4 separate regions of the Homo sapiens genome follow, and all the other regions are reported to be linked to region 3. Evidence: microRNA targets listed by miRTarBase, many of them from high-throughput screens and not tested one by one. Region 3 holds a microRNA gene; each other region holds the end of a gene's coding sequence.

Region 1 (3,111 bases), not on the chromosome of region 3:
CCACATTTCGCTTTCAGTAGTCATTTTTAAGCTCTATAAAATAAAATGAAGAAAGGACAGTTCACAATCTAGTAATAGCCATTGCCTACCTGTTTTTCTTGGACTCTTGTTGGAAATGGTAGGATCATGATTTCAGTCCTAACAGAGATGCTTGTGGAGGGACAGCCTGTCCCTTTCTTGGGGCAGCCTCAGTGGGGAGACCATAGCACTCCTAATGGAGTCACAGATAGTATTCCAAAAGGAGTTTGGTCCTGGAGTTGAGTAATTACACGCAGGGAGGGACCTCACAACAGCCAGACTGTTTCTCCTGCTCACTTAACCCTGTGTTGCCCCACACAGTATCGTGAAGAGCGCTTCCGACTGACGAGCGAGAGCACCAACCAGAGGGTCCTATGGTGGTCCATTGCTCAGACTGTCATCCTCATCCTCACTGGCATCTGGCAGATGCGTCACCTCAAGAGCTTCTTTGAGGCCAAGAAGCTGGTGTAGTGCCCTCTTTGTATGACCCTTCCTTTTTACCTCATTTATTTGGTACTTTCCCCACACAGTCCTTTATCCACCTGGATTTTTAGGGAAAAAAATGAAAAAGAATAAGTCACATTGGTTCCATGGCCACAAACCATTCAGATCAGCCACTTGCTGACCCTGGTTCTTAAGGACACATGACATTAGTCCAATCTTTCAAAATCTTGTCTTAGGGCTTGTGAGGAATCAGAACTAACCCAGGACTCAGTCCTGCTTCTTTTGCCTCGAGTGATTTTCCTCTGTTTTTCACTAAATAAGCAAATGAAAACTCTCTCCATTACCTTCTGCTTTCTCTTTGTCCACTTACGCAGTAGGTGACTGGCATGTGCCACAGAGCAGGCCCTGCCTCACTGTCTGCTGGTCAGTTCTGGGTTCACTTAATGGCTTTGTGAATGTAAATAAGGGGCAGGTCTTGGCCCTAGAGGATTGAGATGTTTTTCTAAATCTTAGAACTATTTTTGGATAAATTATATATTTTCCTTCCTAGTAGAAGTGTTACTGCCTGTAACTAGCTCAAAATACCAATGCAGTTTCTGCATTCTGGGTTTTGTTTTTCCTTTTTTTTTTTTTTTTTTTTTTTTGAGTTTTGCTCTTGTCGCCCAGGCTGGAGTGCAATGGCGTGATCTCAGCTCACTGGCAACATCTGCCTCCCGGGTTCAAATGATTCTCCTGCCTCAGTCTCCTGAGTAGCTGGGATTACAGGTGCCCGCCACCACGCTCAGCTAATTTTTGTATTTTTAGTAGAGATGGGGTTTTACCATGTTGGCCAGGCTGGTCTTAGACTCCTGACCTCAGTTGATCCACCTGCCTCAGCCTCTGCATTCAGTTTATTCACATATTTTTGGTAACTCCCATGGCAGCTCCTAGGATTTCAGCGGTCTGTGGGCCAGAAAGCAGGCACCAGGGCTGACCTCAAGGCCGTATCAGAGGGCCAAGCAGAGTTCTTTTGGATACCTGCTTTTCATCCCACAGGGCCTTAGAGTCAGAGGTAAGGTAGCAACAGAGCTAGAATGGGGCAATGCACTCTTACCCTCCTTCTCAACTTTTATTTAAGCTGTGCTAAATGTTTTCTTCAAGGGAACCAGATTTAGTTCTTTACAGAATTTTCCAGTGAAATAAAACATGTTGTAATAGCTGTGTTTGAGATGAAATAAGAGGTTGTGGGTAGAGGGGAGGCACCTAAAGGAAAAGAGGAAAGGTGCCTGGGCTACCTATGCAGATAACCTGGAGTGGACTTCACTGTGGACTCGTGGTACTAAGGCTTGGCCTGGACAGGCAGTCTAGGGGGTATGGGAATACACGGTGTGGTTGTTCAACTATTTGCAAAGGTCAACCAAATAGACCACATGTTCGCAAAGTATCATCTGAGGAAATTAAGTACCTTCTTAGCCCTCTCAGTCATAAATTTGAACAAATTTTAATACACTTCCCTCATGCCCTTCTATATAAAACTTAATACCATTAGTTCCCCATTCTTGACATTTTATTTCAGTTTTTATTATATATTTATTTGAAATATTTATTAAATTATCTGACCTACAGAACTAAATTCTTCTCCTTTTGTTATTTCTTATGTCCTATACCATATATGTACCTATTTATATATATATTTATGTATTTTTAAAATTTTTATTTATTTTATTTTTTGAGACAGTCTTGCTCTGTCGCCCAGGCTGGAGTGCAGTGGCATGATCTTGGCTCACTGCAACCTCTGCCTCCCGGGTTCAAGCAGTTCTGCCTCAACTTCTGAGTAGCTGGGATTACAGACACCCACCACTACACCCGGCTAATTTTTGTATTTTTATTTTATCTTATTCATTTATTTATTTTTGAGATGGAGTCTCACTCTGTCGCCCAGGCTGGAGTGCAGTGGTGCAATCTTGGCTCACTGCAACCTCCACCTCCTGAGTTCAAGAGATTCTCCTGCCTCAGACTCCCGAGTAGCTGGGATTATAGGCGCCCGCCACCATGCCCAGCTAATTTTTGTATTTTTAGTAGAGACAGGGTTTCACCATGTTGACCAGGCTGGTCTTGAATTCCTGACCGCAGGTGACCCGTCTCGCCTCCCAAAGTGCTGGGATTACAGGTGTGAGCTGGCCGGGCACAGGTGATGGGGTCTTGCTCTGTCCCCAAGGCTGGAGTGCAGTGGTGCCATCACAGCTCAAAGCAACCTTGAGCTCCCAGGTTCAAGTGATCCTCCTACCTTACCCTCCCAAGTAGCTGGTACTACAGGTATACTCCACTGTGCCTGGCTATTTTTACTCTTAAAAATACATGTGGGCTGGGCACGGTGGCTCACGCCTGTAATCCTAGCACTTTGGGAAGCCAAGGTGGGTGGATCCCTATAGCCCAGGAGTTCGAGACCAGCCTGGGCAACATGGCGAAATCTTGTCTCTGCAAAAAATACAAAAAATTTAGCTGGTGGCACATGCCTATAGTCCCAGCTACTTGAGAGGCTGAGGTGGAAAGATCACTTGAGCCCGGGAGGTCAAGGCTGCGGTGAGCCATGATCGTGCCACTGCACTCCAGTCTGGGCAACAGTGATCCCATCTGAAAAAAAAAAACAAAAAAAAAAATGCAATTTAG
Region 2 (3,111 bases), not on the chromosome of region 3:
GCTAATTTTGTATTTTTTAAGTAGAGACAGGATTTCACCATGTTGGTCAGGCTGGTCTTGAACTCCTGACCTCAGGTGGATCCACCCACCTTGGCCTCCCAAAGTGCTGGGATTATGGTGTGAGCCACCACACCTGGTCCTATCAGGGTTAAATCCAAGTAATAACTCAATTTCAAAAAAATTGCAGAAAAGCCTATTAAAAGAAAAAAAAAACCATGAGACTTATCTCTTGTAAATTTGTTACATGAACTAGATATTAAACAGCCAAAAAAGGACAGCGATGATAGTATCTGTTAAGATCCTGGTTCATTTCACAATATGAAAAAGTTGATGGGTACTTAGTAGCTTTTTTAAAAAAATTCATTTTATTATATTATACTAGAAAAATGAAAATATTAATACTTTCCATTCAGAAAAGCTTAAATGACTCGTCTCTAATTTTGGTTTAAAGTTTTCTTCAATTTATTCAAGGCTCTCAAAAAAAAAATAGAAAAGCACTGTAATTTGCACTGCTTGACTGTAAAATGTTTTATGTGTTAGGAATAGAATATTCTTTAATGGGCAGGCAGAGAATGAAAGCCAAGCCAAATAACAAAATCTCATGGGTTTTGATCACTTAGAAAATTACAGTGAATCAATATTACCTAAAAGGAAATTCAAAAAATTCCCAATTGTTGATAATACATGTCTCCTGGCATACAGGGTCCATCTTGCAGTAAAAAATGGGCACAATGCTGAGTTCAGAACTGCAGAGTAAATTTATTGGGTGGTTGTCGGTTAAAATGACAAATGATGATCTGAATTCAATACATTAAATTGCTGATAGAATTGCAAATTTCAACTGAATTTACATTGAGGCCTAGCAGTGGTAGTTGGCTACAACTGGAACAGTTTATCACCTCAGGGTATTTGAGGGCAAGGAAGATACAGAAAAAAAAAAAATTAGGGGTATGCAACACAGTTTAAGTGCTCAGAAATAAATTTTACCACAGTGAGAACGAAACCACAATGACATGTTACTAACACTGTGCAGACGTCATGGTTGAATGCCTGCGTTCTGTTCCTTCCTGGTGGCAGCCGCCTTGGTTCATTAGTTCTCATGTTTGCAGCTCCTTCACATGCCCCGGAGCTTCCCAAGTGTGCCACTCAAAGGAAACAGCACAGTGAGTGGAGGCCAGCAGACCCACCCGGCCCAAAACAGAGCCTTCTCAGTTATGAGACTTTTCTACAGAAGGGACTTCAAAGTCTAAACAGACCAGAGAGAGTTAAAAAGATCCTGCTGCTTCTTAGGGAAGTTCAAAGGTACATTCTGACACCTAAGTGGGAAACAATTCTGTTTTAGGAAAAGTGCCAACTGCAATCCGGGTACAAAATTTCAACAAAAAGAAAAGTAAAACTGAATGATCTCCCCCTCATTCCCTAATTCATAGAAAAATAGTAGGTGTGACTTTTGTTTCAAAGCAAGCTGAAAAATGGTTAAATGGACAATTTACAAATGGTCTTCAGAAAACCTTATCATTACCTTTTCTAGTTGAAAGTCCATGAATGACATACATAAACGTACACATCATAGCCAAAAAACTCAAGAACTAGTGGTTAACAAGATACTGGAAAAGGTGAAGGATAAAAACTGGTGAATGAAGGTAGCTGGGTGGTCTACAGGCTAGAACACGGTCACGAACGGCAGAATGCAGTAGCCACCTGCGATCCTAATCATTCAAGCTTACTGGTGATACGTCCCACTTCTAAAGTGGCCGTCCTTCCTGGGCAGCCATGTCTGGAGGGCGCCACATCAGGAATGAGGGCCTGTGCATTGCTTTGTCCCAAATTCCAGATAAGAGCAACATGTGGGTGGATCTGTGTCGTAAGACTCATCCTCAAAGTGGATTTGGCATTTCTTCCCCAAAGCTAATTGAACAAATACTTGAGAACCATGATTTCTATGAATTATTCTGTATTTCTGGTTTCTTTTCCTGCAAAAAATTTCATGTATACTGAGTAACAACCTTTGATCGATTTATTAATTAGAAGCTATTTATACCAGTAGAAAAATACCCACAAACAATTAAAATTATAAGACTATTTTTAAATTCATAAAAATGGTACTGTACTGGGTGTGACTACATTTCCAGTTTTTGGTGTCTCATGTGATACAGAATCAGGAGGACTTACATGGCTGGAGGGGAGGGGAGCTGTTTTCCTAATTTGTTACTATTTAAAAATGGTTAAGGGTGGCCACATCTTGGGGGCTTCTCCTTTAATGTAAAGTCCCTTTTGGAATATCACTTAAAATCTGGGACAGGTCAAATCAGCTGCTACTCTACACGACCGTGTCTGCAGTACAGGCGTGGTGAGAAGACCTATACCTCACTCGGCAGAGTCTCACCTATGCTGTTCGCAGCAACGCATCGGCCGCAGGCACAGAGCGCCATGGCCAGAGCCCACCAGGGCAGCCGCCTCGCACCACAACCAAGGGCCTCACAGCGCGCAATCAAAGGTCTGGGGCTCATTCAACGCTGCGGTCGGAGGGTCGGGGCGCCTCGTCTGGGCAATTTTCTGTTTGGGGTTTTTTGTCTCTTCTTCCTCTTCAGTTTCACTTTCACAGACATGAACCACCACGCTGGGTGTCGACTCTGTTCCCGCGTGAAGTTCATATTTCTCTCCTGCAGAGGCAAACAAAATAACCATGACAAAAGCATCACTTCCAGCAAAAAGAACTCTTTTGTCCCTTGCAACTTTTTGTTCTACTCCTATTTTAATGGGTGATTCTTGTTCTTTAAATCTTTAAATACTATGTTAGAGTATTTTATCTTGTTTTGGTGTTAAAGATTTGATACTTTAAGGCTTGTATAAAATGTTGTTTCAGTACTGAAGTCTTGGGAGTTAAAATGCAAATGCTAATTATTGTTTTATGAATAATATGAGTTAATCTGTTTAATTAATTAATTTATTTATTTGAGATGGAGTCTCGCTCTGTCGGCAGGCTGGAGTGCAGTGGCACGATCTCGGCTCACTCCAACTTCTGCCTCCCAGGTTCAAGCGATTCTCCTGCCTTAGCCTCCCGAGTAGTTGGGACTACAGGTGTGTGCCACCACGCCCAGCTAATTTTTG
Region 3 (3,111 bases):
ACAGCTCAGAGGGCCTCAGAGCTTTCCTGCACAGGGCTTCACTTAACCCTCAGTGGGCAGCAGACCCATCTTACAAATAAAGCAAATTCAGAGAAGATACTCATTTGGCCACCTTGCTGGCCATATGATCTTGGGAAGAAGCAAAATGCTAATCCAAAGCCAGTATTTTCTACTGAACACCGGCCCCTTATTGGTCCCACAATGACCAGTGCTTGAAGATCAGTCCCAGAGGGCCAAGTAGTTCTTACTCCGTAGGTAGTAAGCCTAGGGTAGAGTTCTTATTTCTTGAGATCAGGCAAAGCATGAATTAGCAATGTCTGCTCTGTATTCCCACCCCCAAATCCTATACAAGTTACAGCCCACTAAGGCTGACCCCCTCTGGGTATTCTTGAGCTTTTACTCTGTGTTAGGTCCTGGGCTGTGTTTAAGCATTCTCATTTATTCCTTAACTTCATTTTACAGATAAAGAGCCAGGGGCATTAAGTAACCTTCCTAAAGTGCTACAGCGGTGAGAGCCACCAGGCTTCACAAGCAGGCAGTGTACCTCCATGCTCTTAACTAGGGCACAGCCTTGCCTGAGGGAAACACCACCTCAGACTATTTAGTGATCCCAGACATCCCTTGGAGAACTTGCAGGTATTTTCTTTCTTTTTTTTTAAAGGAGAAAGTCTCAAGAGAAGAGAAGATCTTTAGAAGCCTCCTACACAAAGGATATGCAGTCCCCCTTGCTTGGTGGTGAGTTAGAAACCTGCCTGGAGACAAGGCGGCGGGGGGGGGGGGTGCGGAATCTAAATATACTTATTACTTGTAATGGTTTCTCAGCAGCTGAACACATAGTGTCTTGAGAAAAAGGTGCTTGCTTATAACTTACACCAGGGTGTTCAATTTTTTGGCTTCCCTGGGCCACACTGGAAGAACTGTCTTGGGTCACACATATAATACACTAACACTAATGATATATGATGAGCTAAAAAAAAAATAATAAATCGCAAAAAAATTCATGTTTTAAATTTGCAAATTTGCGTTGGGCCGCGAGTTGGACAACCTTGTCTTACACAAAGCAGCATATGGGCCAGTGGCAACCTGCTTAAAGGGTTATGAAGGTCTAGTTCCTGACAACAAACTTCACGGCCCATACAAAGTTATTCATTTTACTTTCGACCACTTACCCCATGAACTACACCCAATGGGATACTAACCTGAAGCATGGCAGCTACTACTGGATTAGCCCTAAATAGGCTTAACCCTAAATAATCAGTGACCACTGTCCAGGTCAGAGGCTAACCTTGGGCTGCAGACGCAATGAAACCCCTATAGCAAGCAGAGGCTGGTCTACGACGTGGGAGGGAGAGGCAGAGATACACCTTAGCAGACGCCAGGATGCAAGTTTAGGAGTTCTCAGCGTCAGGAAAACATCCAGAACGTCTCTGTCAGTATCCTCTTATGCCTACAGTATCCCAAACTCCCAATTTTCCTGGTAGTGGGGCAGACTGGTCATCTGGTCACAACACCCGTTAATTACGGAGTAAAGGGATGGGCAAGAGGCTTCTCACCTTAAGAGTCACGTGGAGAGAAATGCTCAGGCACAAGGGACTTAAAATGAGAGGTAGAGGGTGGATGTAGGAGGTGTAGTTCTTCCCCGAGAGCGAACTAGCCCAACCGGAGAAAAGGTTTTAGGTCCCTGGTAAGGGAAGAGGCCTCAGTCCCCGACGTCTCTTACCACCTACACTGGACGAGGGTTTGGCGTGATTAGAGGCGAAACACTCTCTGCCACCCCAGCTGACCGCAGCGCCGCCCGCGGCCCGGGGCCCCGGCGGGACAGACCGGCGAGGGTGCGGCGGCGCCCTGCGCCCACCCCCGCCCCACCCCAAGAGCCCCGCGGGCCCCGCAGCGCCCCTCCTCCGCCCAGCGGCGCCCCGCCCGCCCGCCCGCAGCAGCAGCACCAACAGCGCCCCGGGCTCGACCTCGCTGCCGAAGGCCAGCTTGGCGGAGGCGGCGGCCAGGGCCCCGAACGCGCCGGCGCACAGACAGTTGAATACGCCCCAAAAGCGGCGCCGCATCGCACCCGCCTGGAGGTGCGGAGGGAATTCCGCGGGGGTGTCAGGGTACGCGGTCGCGGACACGGCGCCGCCCGGAGGCCCCGGCCTCTCGGCCATGTTGCCTGCTGACACCGTGCCTGGCACCCGCTGCCCGCAGGGCAGAGCGCGCGCCGCGATTGGATGGCAGCCTCACGTGACGCGACGCTCCTGTGACGCCACGCTCCGGCAGGCCCCTTGGGAATCGCTCTCCGGCGCCTCGGAGGGGGCGGGCCAGGTGGCAGAGACCCTGGGCTGTGGCGGCCTCCGGCCTAACCTGTAGTAGGTTTGTGCTCTGGGGAGGACGTCGGGACCCGAGGCCTGAGGCCAAGCCGGGTACTGTGGACGCTGTGGTAGAAGGTAAACTTCTCGCGGCTTAGCCGTCTCCATCCCGGCCACCCGGCTCCCGGTGAAACTTATTAAAGATGCCTAACGGGCCCCGCGCCGGCCCACCGAGTCCATCCACGTCGACCAGGCTTCTCCGCTCCACCCTCCAGCCTGAGGACCGCCGGACCAAGAGATGCCTCGGCAGAGGGCGCTGGGGACCTCCAGACCCAGAAAGACGCCAGAGCCCCATATGGGGACAAGCGCATCACAGAAAACCGAAAAAATGAGGATCTGCGATGAGAGGAAGACAATGATCCATAATCAAGCCACGCAGAATCAACATGACTTCTAATCTCCTGTTATACTTACGTATGTTTAGAATGTTTCCGGCTGGGCGTGGTGGCTCATGCCTGTAATCCCAGCACTTTGGGAGGCCGAGGCGGGTGGATCACCTGAGGTCGGGAGTTCGAGACCAGCCTGACCAACATAGAGAAACCCCGTCTCTACTAAAAATACAAAATTAGCCGGGCGTGGTGGTGCATGCCTGTAATCCCAGCTACTCGGGAGGCCGAGGCAGGAGAAGCGCTTGAACCTGGGAGGTGAAGGTTGTGGTGAGCTGAGATCATGCCATTGCACTCCAGCCTGGCCAACAAGAGTGAACTCCGTCTCAAAAAATAAAAATAAAAATAAAATGTTCCCATTTAAAAAG
Region 4 (3,111 bases), not on the chromosome of region 3:
AATGATAAAAAGAGAAAGAGGAGGGCAGGCTGGAATAATTGGTCTCACATCCAGATGCTGACTGGCCACCTGCCACGTGCCTGGCACACACCCTAGGCACGGGTAGATTCATGGGGAGAGAAGCACAAAAAAGTCCTGGAATGATAGGAAAGATTTGGCTAAAAGGAGTCTTGGGAACAAGAATGAGTTTCTTGGGAACAACAGGTGGACCAATGCTGGGAGGGCAAACTGCATGAAAACAGGAAAAAGCTAGCCAGGCAGGCTGTCTTTAAAGAAGTTGTAACAAATCACACCAGGTGCTGCAATAACTTTCTCCTCCCTAGATTTTCAGAGCATGGTCTTTCTTCATGAAACCAGAGTTGGCAACTGAGGAACCAGGGACCCAAGAGTACTCCTAAGCCCACCTGCAGAGATTTTTACTTCTGGTACTCAGTTATCTTTGCAGTAATTTAGTATACCAAGCTGGTGCCAAAATTTTATGACAAAAGGTTATTCCTGTTTTTGAATGAAATTTGCTCATGGGCACTGGGCCAAGGAAATTTGAGAAGAAAAAAATTCAAGAAAGTGAAAAGTAAATTTAAAACATCCTAATAAAAAAATTTCAACTGGCCTTTAACTGACATAAAAATCATTTTTGGCAATGTGATTGACTTTTCAATCAAGAAAAGTAACTAAAAATTATAACAACATGGAGTGATGGAAATAATTGTACTGTATCAGTGTTTCCAAACGTTTGCACTTTGTAACACAGCACAGGAAATGATGCTATTTCATGCTGTTGGTTCAGCACATTGGGTAACTAGATGAAGCTCCTCCAGGCTAGAGGCAGCCAGCTGGAACCTTGCCCCAGCGCTAGGCCCCAGCCAGTGGTCACTCTGAAAGCTCAGCAGAATCCATCTCTGCCCGTCTGCAACCAACCTGCAACCCACTTGTGGCACCCCAGTGTGTCCAAGCAGACTGGCTGGGAACTGATGTTGATACTTCATCTTTTTTTTTTTTTGAGACGGAGTCTAGCTGTGTCGCCCAGGCTGGAGTGCAGTGGTGCGATCTCAGCTCACTGCCAGCTCTGCCTCCTGGGTTCACGCCATTCTCCTGCCTCAGCCTCCCAAGTAGCTGGGATTACAGGCACCTGCCACCACGCCTGGCTAATTTTTTGTATTTTTAGTAGAGACAGGGTTTCACCGTGTTAGCCAGGATGGTCTTGATCTCCTGACCTCGTGATCCGCCCGCCTCGGCCTCCCAAAGTGCTGGGATTACAGGCGTGAGCCACAGCGCCTGGTGATAATTCATCATTTTTTAAAAGTACTTTTATAAAGATCACTGATTGCTGAGACCGGTAATATTCTTTGTTTATAGTAGTAATATCATTTGGAATAGCGTGTTTAAGAGTAATAAATACAGTCTCTTGGACACGGGACTCACTTATCAGTTCATACTACAATAAAATCATTTTGGAAAATATACTACTAATAATATATTTCACCAAAAAACAATATTACAATTTTCTTTAAAATTATACCAATTATGACTCATACAATAGCAACACCTAGAAAACATTTTGTCTGACGTCATAAAATGAGTGCAGATATAAAAGAATCAACAGCAGATAATGCACCTAATTCATGGATTAAAGACAAAGATTAAAAAGGAAAGAAGAGTTTGTCATTTTACATATCAGAGGAAATATAATAAGTTAAGTCTACAATAATCTGGGTTGAATGCATCACACTTACACATTGAAAATTTATCAGACTGACTTTCTGTGGCTATACACCATACACAGTATAGTAAAGTAACCCTCAGGAAGGACATTAGTCTTTAAAATCTTGGCTTTAAGGAATGACAAATGTCTTTGAAAATATTTTGTTCAGTCACTGTGATTATAAAAGTACTTCAATTAAGAAATCCATCTATAATCAATCTTAAATGGCAGTGCATTTGAAAAATGGCATTGGTTTGTAATGTTTGCATTTCCAAAGAAAAATATAGAAAGAACTTAAAAAAGCAAGGAAACTGGTTTTCAAAAAAAGTATCGATTCAAAAATCTACTGCACAAAAATATGTACTTCTTAAGTGTTTCTAATAAATTAATTCCATAACATTTTTATGTATATTTATATATTTATATATATAATCCCTGATAATCTATAAAAGAGGGTCTATAATAGTAAAATAAGTGAACCTCAAAAGTACCCCCTTCATAAAATGTATGTAACATTAGTTTTTCTCAAATTTAAAGAATGTAACAATATGTACAACTCTTATGTATTAGTATAATACCAAAATAGTACAAGTCATATTAACAGGCTGTCATAATTGAAAAATGTTTGAGTCAAGTTAAAATCTGAGGACAGCTTAGTTTCAAACAAATACAATTATTATGGGAGATTCACTTTCCAAGTGGAAATGACAATCGTCTTATCTACAGTAGACTTCACAAGAGGTAGTGTTCAAGTAGAAATAAAAAAAAGATACATGCTTAACTATCTTTAATTAACAAATTCACAGGAAAAAATGTGTTGGTTTCTCAGATGATCAGTTGGTGGCTTTTTTAATATGAATCTGAAATACAAAATCATAAAAGGTATGATAAAGCTGTTAATTCTCAATTCCAAAAAGGCCTTAAATACAAAATAAAAACATAATAAAAATGTAGTTTCTAAGTTGTTTCACTGATTTGATATATGCTTACCTCATTAAGAATGGCCCAAACAGCAGAATTCTGAATAACTGAAAGTCGAAAGGCTGAAATGGGATTGAGACTTGGATCCACCATTCCTTCTGCAACACCATTCTCAAATTTTCCTTCAAAATAAAAATCAATACTTGTTGGATACACCGAGATAAGCAAACATAAAATATCACTGAGTTAAGGCAGGAAAGGAATACACCAAAATATTTCTAGTAGATGTCTTTTGACAGGGCACAGGTAATTTCTTTCCCCCTTCTTTCTACTTTCATTCAGCTTTTATATTTTTCATGAAGAAGTGCATATTTAAAAACTTCACAATTTACTTAATTAGGCAGAGCTATAATTTTTCTCACTACAAATTAAAAAACAAAAATATATTTGTTCTTATATCAACCATGTTTTAAACTATAGGTTTTTTG

Evidence for each region. The annotated mature microRNA hsa-miR-564 reads AGGCACGGUGUCAGCAGGC and lies in region 3 at 2,160-2,178, opposite strand. An mRNA with a match to its seed (bases 2 to 7 or 8) in the 3' UTR can be bound and repressed. Matches are read on the target gene's strand: a 7mer-m8 pairs with bases 2 to 8, a 7mer-A1 pairs with bases 2 to 7 and ends in A, and an 8mer does both.
Region 1: miRTarBase lists TMED4 as a target of hsa-miR-564. The part of its 3' UTR that is shown has no 7-base or 8-base seed match.
Region 2: the mRNA of RCAN3 is a reported target of hsa-miR-564. The part of its 3' UTR that is shown has no 7-base or 8-base seed match.
Region 4: the mRNA of MGAT4A is a reported target of hsa-miR-564. Seed matches in the 3' UTR shown: 7mer-m8 at 96-102.

Annotation. Positions count from the first base shown.
Region 1 is chr7:44,576,857-44,579,967 of GRCh38, reverse strand. TMED4 (transmembrane p24 trafficking protein 4) reads left to right here. Exons shown (of 5, transcript NM_182547.4): 5 at 340-2,074. The coding sequence ends at 489. Among named protein-coding and RNA genes, the nearest start is that of TMED4, 3.8 kb to the left of the region's middle.
Region 2 is chr1:24,534,645-24,537,755 of GRCh38, reverse strand. RCAN3 (RCAN family member 3) reads right to left here. Exons shown (of 5, transcript NM_013441.4): 5 at 1-2,663. The coding sequence ends at 2,479. Among named protein-coding and RNA genes, the nearest start is that of NCMAP-DT, 20 kb to the left of the region's middle. RefSeq lists enhancers at 1,208-1,297, 1,124-1,773, 1,774-2,425, 2,400-2,459, 3,076-3,111.
Region 3 is chr3:44,860,970-44,864,080 of GRCh38, reverse strand. MIR564 (microRNA 564) reads right to left here and starts at 2,193; the gene lies at 2,100-2,193. TMEM42 (transmembrane protein 42) reads right to left here and starts at 2,169. Exons shown (of 3, transcript NM_144638.3): 1 at 1,965-2,169. The coding sequence starts at 2,156. It also overlaps a transcript of KIF15 not described here. RefSeq lists silencers at 1,660-1,709, 2,040-2,089 and an enhancer at 2,120-2,709.
Region 4 is chr2:98,623,031-98,626,141 of GRCh38, forward strand. MGAT4A (alpha-1,3-mannosyl-glycoprotein 4-beta-N-acetylglucosaminyltransferase A) reads right to left here. Exons shown (of 16, transcript NM_012214.3): 15 at 2,693-2,805; 16 at 1-2,562. The coding sequence ends at 2,536. Among named protein-coding and RNA genes, the nearest start is that of UNC50, 16 kb to the left of the region's middle.